Linked DNA regions of Homo sapiens. The protein of the gene in region 1 interacts with the protein of each later gene in a pairwise test. Each region holds a gene or a part of one and is shown in the gene's direction. Other genes may lie near its edges.

Region 1 (4,128 bases):
TCCAGGAAGTTTTCCTGAGGTCAGCCTCCTCAGATGGAGAGCACCTCTGTGTATATTCCAGCACTGTTTGTGTAGGTGCATCTGCTTGTGTGTCAGGATTTTGCCTTAGGGATAGAAAATGAATATTCTACCCCCAGCCTCATCCCACAGCATCTACAATGGAAACCCGAATCCGCAGTGCAGCTAAATAGGAAACTGGCCCTGGAATCTGAGGTCTGTCCCTGACTTTCATCTGCCCATGCAGGCGTCATCACTCTGCTCCCGGTGCCCTAATGGGCTTTTTGAACTCCCTAAGGACAGAAACTTGTATATCTTCCACTCGGAATTTCCAAGTCTAACTACACTGCTGGGCACACCATAAGTGCCAAATACCAGGTTCTAAATTGTACTGAATGTATCAGGCAACGGCCTTCTGCCCTGGAATGGTCTTACCCATTTGTTCCTAGCCAGCCCCACCCTTCCTGCCATCATGGTCACTTGTAATTGAGTGATGGAGCTTCTCTGCCTGTCTCTTATCACCTATGAGAACCATTCCAAAGGCAAATTTCCTCCTGAAAGGCAATAACAGATTTTACTCTCTATCTCTTCCTGCTTCCCTTCAGCCATGGAAGGCACTAGTGGGGTTGAGGTAGGGAGATACAGAGGGGGAATGAAGGAGTGAATTCTGACACCCCTTAACTGCCTGTGCCACCTTTAACAGTGTCCTCTCTAGCCTGTGTGGGGAGAACACGGAAGAATCCTAGAAGCTGGGGGCTGGATGTGAAGATAAGAAAACGAAGGATTTGGCCCAGTGCAGAGGCTCACACCTGTAATCCCAGCACTTTGAGAGGCTGAGGCAGGTGGGTCACTTAAGGTCAGAAGTTTGAGACCAACCTGGCCAACATAGTGAAAACCCTTCTCTACTAAAATACAAAAATTAGCCGGGTGTGGTGTCACACACCTGTGATCCCAGCTACTCTGGATTCTGAGGCAGGAGAATTGCTTGAACCCGGGAAGCGGAGGTTGCAGTGAGCCGGGATCACGCCACTGCACTCCAGCCTGGGCAACGAGAGTGAAACTCCGTCTCAAAAGAAAGAAAGAAAGGAAAGAAGGAAGGAAGGGAGGGAGGGAAGGAAGGAAGGAAGGAAGGGAGGAAGGAAGGAAGGGAAGGAAGGAAGGAAGGAAGGAAGGAAGGAAAGGAAAGGAAGGAAAGGAGAAGGATTTGTGCAGAAGGGAAGGAAGGAGAAGGATTTGTTCTTAGAGGGAAAAGCATCTAGGACTAGACTCAAAGACACACGTGTATTCATGTACACACCTAACTTCAGAAGGGAGGGACTGTGCTACATACACCTCGAGTAAACATATGGAGATATGCAAGCACATGCACTGGCAGAGACTACAGATGCAGGCACATACCTGGAGGGACTCTGCCAGAATGCACACAAACACCTACAAGGTGCTTACAGGAGCTCACACACAGGATCCAGAGGCACGCACACAACCCAAAGGGTGATCCTCAGGGACATGGGCACATACACACCTAGAGATCATTCACATACAAGCGTTGCAGATGCATGCACATACCTAGCGTGCACTCACAGGGTGTACGTGGACACACACACCCAGGAGTTCACACAGGCACACACCTAGGGGGCGCTCCCAGGGCCCAAGCGCACACACTCACCTCAAAGGTGTCCACAGAGGCACACGCCCCCAGGACGCCGACGCACGCCTAGGGGGCGCTCGCAGGGCCGGCGCGCACCCGCACGCGCACACGCCCCTGCCCAGCCTCCTGCCCGCCTCCGCCTTCGGAGGCTGACGCGCCCGGGCGCCGTTCCAGGCCTGTGCAGGGCGGATCGGCAGCCGCCTGGCGGCGATCCAGGGCGGTGCGGGGCCTGGGCGGGAGCCGGGAGGCGCGGCCGGCATGGAGGCGCTGCTGCTGGGCGCGGGGTTGCTGCTGGGCGCTTACGTGCTTGTCTACTACAACCTGGTGAAGGCCCCGCCGTGCGGCGGCATGGGCAACCTGCGGGGCCGCACGGCCGTGGTCACGGGTGAGTGCGGAGGCGGGTGAGTGCGAGCTGGCGGGGCGCGCGGAGAGGAGGCCGGGCCGGCGGTAGCAGCGGCCCGCCGGGCTCAGCTCAGCTCGGCTCCCGCCCGCGGTCCGCAGGCGCCAACAGCGGCATCGGAAAGATGACGGCGCTGGAGCTGGCGCGCCGGGGAGCGCGCGTGGTGCTGGCCTGCCGCAGCCAGGAGCGCGGGGAGGCGGCTGCCTTCGACCTCCGCCAGGTGAGAGGCAGCGGGGGCGCGTGGGACGGTGAGCCGAGAACCCGCCGGGACACAGAGAAGCCAGCAAAGGGGCTGCGGAGGATCCGGGTCCAGGGAGGAGAGCGCGGCGCGGGCGGCTGAGCGCGAAGAGGGAGTGCACGGAGCGCTGGGGTCACCCGAGGAAGGCGCACCAGAGCCGAGTGGGGGAGGGGCTTCCTGAAGGCCGTAATTGCAGTTCTGAGACGTTTAAGCATCAGTAGAAGTTGGGTTAATGATCAGTAGGAAAGGGAACAGCAGAGGGCACAGCATAAGCAAAGGCTCTGAGGCAAAGAGAGCTGGACTGATCTGAAAAACTGAGAAAAAGATTTAATGAGGCTGGAGCACAAAGTATGAGGAAGATGGGCAAATGAGGGGGCTGGAGAACATTCTAGAGCCTATTGAGAAGCTTGGATTTTATAGATTGGGCAGCAGAGACCAGTGGAGACCATGAACAGCCCTCAGTAGGCTCCGGACTGTCAGAATAGCCTTTGGAAGGAACTCCTTTGTGGCTGCGTGGTGCCTGGAGTGGGGGGGCAAGAGCGGGAGAGAGGAGACCAGTGAGAAGTTACAGATTTTAGGGTAAATGGTAATGGGGAAAGGAGGTGATAATAATAATAGCAAGTACCTACCCAGTGCTGCTAGAGTGTATTTTACACGTTAACTCCTTTCATCCTCACAAAAGCTCAGTGAGATTGGGACTGTTGTTATTATTATTCCCTTTACGCAGTGAGAGAACTGAGACCCAGAGAGATTAAGTATCTTGCCCAAGGTCACACTTTAGTAAAAGGCAAAGTCAGGATTTGAATCCACACACTTATCTAGTACACTCTAAGACACAGGGGCAGATTTTAGTAAACAGTAGGAGATGGACTCTCAGAATTTGGTGCCTGGGGAGAGGGAAGAGGAGAGAGATGCCTGGTGACAAGCCCAGCCCTTGCCTCTCCACAGGAGAGTGGGAACAATGAGGTCATCTTCATGGCCTTGGACTTGGCCAGTCTGGCCTCGGTGCGGGCCTTTGCCACTGCCTTTCTGAGCTCTGAGCCACGGTTGGACATCCTCATCCACAATGCCGGTGAGGGGCAGCAGGCCCTGCGTGGGGGTGGGGTGGCGGGTGGCCAGGGGCAACTGCCCCCTCCAGCGGGGGCCCTGCTGGGGCCAGTGGACACATGGGAAGGATGCCCCCTTCTCCCATCTCATAGATAGGGATGCCAAGGCTGCAGAGCTCCTTCTGGAGCAGCCGCTCACATTTAGCCTCTGCCCCAGGTATCAGTTCCTGTGGCCGGACCCGTGAGGCGTTTAACCTGCTGCTTCGGGTGAACCATATCGGTCCCTTTCTGCTGACACATCTGCTGCTGCCTTGCCTGAAGGCATGTGCCCCTAGCCGCGTGGTGGTGGTAGCCTCAGCTGCCCACTGTCGGGGACGTCTTGACTTCAAACGCCTGGACCGCCCAGTGGTGGGCTGGCGGCAGGAGCTGCGGGCATATGCTGACACTAAGCTGGCTAATGTACTGTTTGCCCGGGAGCTCGCCAACCAGCTTGAGGCCACTGGCGTCACCTGCTATGCAGCCCACCCAGGTGAGGTCTGGTTCTTTGGCTTCCGATTCCCCTCTCCTTTCCTTGCCCCATCCTGTGCCCCCCACACCACTACCGCCTCCCCACCCTCCATCCCTCATTGAGTCACAGAATCTCAGGGCAGCAAGGAAGCATAGTCCAAGGAGAGACCTGTTCCTTGCTGCTCTTGGAACCAGGTTCTCCTGGTTTAGGTTCTTCCTCTCACACCACAAGCCTGGGTCCTCAGCCCTGGGGGGTATATGGCCATGAATAAGACCTGGATTCCCACCCCCA
Region 2 (3,600 bases), on another chromosome or scaffold:
AGGCTGCTCACTATTGCCATAGTACACTAAAACGCCAGCTTGAGCACAATGCCTACCATCCTATAGAGTGGGCTATCAATGCTGCTACCTTGTCACAGTTTTACATCAATAAGGTAAGCTTCTTGAAGTAGTTATCTAACAGAGTACCAATAGTGAGTATAAAAATAGAACCAGTAGTACCTTGAAAATACTATCTTTTAAAAACAGGTAGCTTGTATTTTATGATGTACAACTGAAGCCGAAAATGCAGCCCAGTTTGCCCGTGTACTAAAATTTTGTAGCTTTTTGTTGTATGAATTATTTTGAGTTTTAAAATACCGAGTTTTATCATTGTTTTACATGTTACCTAAGACCAATTCTTTTTTTAACATAGGCACGCTATCTCAACTCATTTTAGTGAGATATTACCTTAAATTGCAGATTTTACCTTGTAGATATAGCTTTATCTTTACGTAATGGTAATCTCATAACTCTGAGAATTTGACTGAGGAAGTTGACTGTTAAATGTGGGCTTTGATAAAAGCATGTGATGCATTTCAGTTATTTTTCAGAATTAACTCTGTAATAATTTTTTAATGTTGGAAATATGTCTGCTGAGTTCCAAAGTTCTAGGTCTTTATACCATACTTCTTTTGGATTGTTACACAGGGACAATGTTTTTGAGCTTCTTAGTTGTTTATCAGAATTTCTCATAAAAATTTAAAAAAGCATTGCTCACATCATGTTGGTGTACTCTTAATTGACCCATTTATTCCTTTAATCCTTGAGAGTTTTTAATGCTAAAATAATTTTACACCACCTTTTCTAACCAGATTTTCCTATTAATCCTTAATAAGACATCTCAGCAATATAAATTACTTTTATTTATATTTCGAATTCGCAAGCCTCTCTGAAATTTTGGTAGTTCTCTGCTTATCAGAGTTCCTTCTTTCATCTCTCTGGTAACCCGCTGCCTTATCCTTGGGCCTTTATCCTTTTTGAGCATTTCGTTAGCGTTGGTTCTGTAAATGCGCCCGATGATTAAAGTATTGTCCCACAGAATTTCATTCAGAAAAGCTATTAGCAGGAGAGAAAGGGCTGTGGTGACTGCAGCATCGCTTCTAGGACTTTGGTCTAAGATCAAGTGTGTAAGTAACGCTACTGCATATATCAGAGCATTCAGTTAACTAATTCTCATGAATCCATTTCATTGTCCTCATCCAAAGTGTTATCCAGTGCCTCCGCTTGTGACATCTTTTTTACAGCTGTTGGAGGCCCCTTATTCATTCTGTTTAGCAACTTTAAAATTACATATTCACTGTGACTTTAATTTATACTTAAAACTCCATGGAAATTGGCAGTACTAAGATATCTAGATATTAAAGTGTGATTAAAATTTAAAGTTGTTAAGCATTACTTATGTGGAGCATGCAGTAATTTTCATGAGACCTCCCACACCCTGCACTTTTATTTTTTTACCAAAATCTTTTTTAAGTTTTTGTTAAAACCAACTAAGTCGTATTGCAAAAAGAGGGATTTGAACCATGTTTTTAAAAATGCAATTGTCATTTATATCATTGTCATCTTCATCTGATTCCAGTGATGAGGTTTTGCTACTTGGTGAATCCCTACCTGGCAGCTGCTAAAGTCCCACATTTACCAGCCACCTAGAGGGCATAAGACACTCACTGTTCTAGCAGTGGTTGCTCACAGGGAGCCAATCTGGACAAAGCTGAAATGACGATAAATGTTAAGGGATTGGATTATAGAGAGATAATTAAAGTTTCATTATATAAACTCTAACTTTCTTTTGGCTTTTAAGATTTAACACATTTTTATCTATAGATGTTGCTGGGCTAATACTACACGTGTCCAGCTATTCTCAAGATGGCTTCTGAATTTGCCATAATGGAAAGATACATTTAATGCTGCAATTTTAAAGTTATAGCCAACCATTTAAAGCCTTTCAGGTATTACTAATATTAAGTAGACATTCTATTTAATGAGGGTGGCTTCCAACTAAAAGTTGGACTTTAACTTTGAACTTCTGCTGGGTGGTCCTTTGACTTACATGACAAATACAAAATGTTTCTATTAACAAGGAGATCTTCTCTAATTGTTTGAGAAGTTTGCCATGCCCGGAATTGAATTATGAAGTCTTCAAGAGTGTTGGTAAAGCAGTTCCATAAGGTTCATCTGTAGAAGTCTGTTGACTTTAAAACTTGGTGGGAAGCCTTATTGTATGTAAAGTTTAAAGATTTTAGAACACAGGAATATCTTCTTACCTGAGTTTATCCTATTTGCCTTTGTATAGTAGGATGTAAAGGGGCTCTCTAAACCTAATAAAAATTAAATCCTCAGGCTGGGCAAGGTGGCTTACATCTATAACCCCAGCACCCTGGGAGGCCAAGGTGGGAGCATTGCTTCAGGCCAGGAGTTGGAGACCTGTTTAGGCAACATAGAGAAACCCCAGAATTAGTCAGGCTTGGAGGCTAAAGGTGGGAGGATCCCTTAAGACCAGGAGGTTGAGGCTGCAGTGAACTATGATTGTGCCACTGCACTCCAGCCTTGGGCCAGAGTGAGACCCCTGTCTCGTAAAAAAAAAAAAAAATATATATATATATATATATATATATATTCAGTCTTCTGACACAATGTAAATAGTCTAAGAATTTATTGTGCATGGGATTTTGGCTACTTAGACTGAACCTAAAGGAGTTTTTGAGACAGTTTAAGTCTAGGATGACAGCCATTCCTGTATATCTATTGATTGTATAAGGAGAGCTAACTTTCAGTTGGCAGTTGTCTTTCAATCCGAGTGGATTATTATTAAGAGTTTGGGGGCATTAATATTTTAACCTTTGAGGTTACATTTTAACCAGATAATATGATAATATATCTTTTGTACCTTCTGAATGATCTGCAACTCTACAGGGCCTCCTTTGTAGTATTTTTATCTGATTTTATACCTTTTCCCATATTAAAAGAAATTATGCAAGTATCAGTTGCAAATAAAGCTGTGTGATAGTTGCATTCACTGTTGTTTATTTCCCCAATAGCTATGCTTTATGGAGGCCAGGCACTGTTTATCAGCTGCTAATGTCATTTTTGGTCAAACTGGAAAGATCTCAGCCACAGAAGACAGTAAGTTTACCTTTGCATGTTTTACATAGCTTTTAAAAAAAGTTTTATTTTGAAATTATTTTAAACTTTTGAAAAGTTGCAAGAACAGAAGAGCTATCATATGCCCTTCTAAATGCACCAATTTTTAGTATTTTCCTCGCTTGGAATCAAATTTTATTTTTCTCTCTGAACCATTGGAGAGAAGGTTACATACATTAGGCTCTTTTACCCTTTCATACTTTAGTATATATTTCCTAAGAAGAATATTTTCTTACATAATCATAGATCATTTATCAAATTCAAGAAATGTAACATTGGCCAGGCATGGTGGCCCACGCCTGTAATGCTAGATTTTGGGAGGCCAAGATGGGAGGGGCCAGGAGTTCAAGACAAGCCTGATCAACATAGTGAGACCCCATCTCTATGTTTTTAAAGAAATTAAAAAAAAAAAAGTAACATTGATACAATTCTTTTATCTACACTGCATATTTCTATTTC

What was found.
Region 2: the proteins of DHRS13 (region 1) and KIFBP interact in binary tests that used the Homo sapiens proteins (3 or more experiments, as listed by UniProt).

Annotation. Positions count from the first base shown.
Region 1 is NC_000017.11:28,900,720-28,904,847, reverse strand, and holds the start of DHRS13 (dehydrogenase/reductase SDR family member 13 precursor), read left to right. Parts: upstream 1-1,768; 5' UTR 1,769-1,903; coding exon 1,904-2,030; intron 2,031-2,146; coding exon 2,147-2,265; intron 2,266-3,231; coding exon 3,232-3,355; intron 3,356-3,546; coding exon 3,547-3,858; intron 3,859-4,128. UniProt on the Homo sapiens protein: Putative oxidoreductase.
Region 2 is NC_000010.11:69,005,803-69,009,402, forward strand, and holds part of KIFBP (KIF-binding protein), read left to right. Parts: coding exon 1-113; intron 114-1,095; exon of another isoform or gene 1,096-1,949; intron 1,950-3,038; coding exon 3,039-3,123; intron 3,124-3,600. UniProt on the Homo sapiens protein: Activator of KIF1B plus-end-directed microtubule motor activity. Required for organization of axonal microtubules, and axonal outgrowth and maintenance during peripheral and central nervous system development.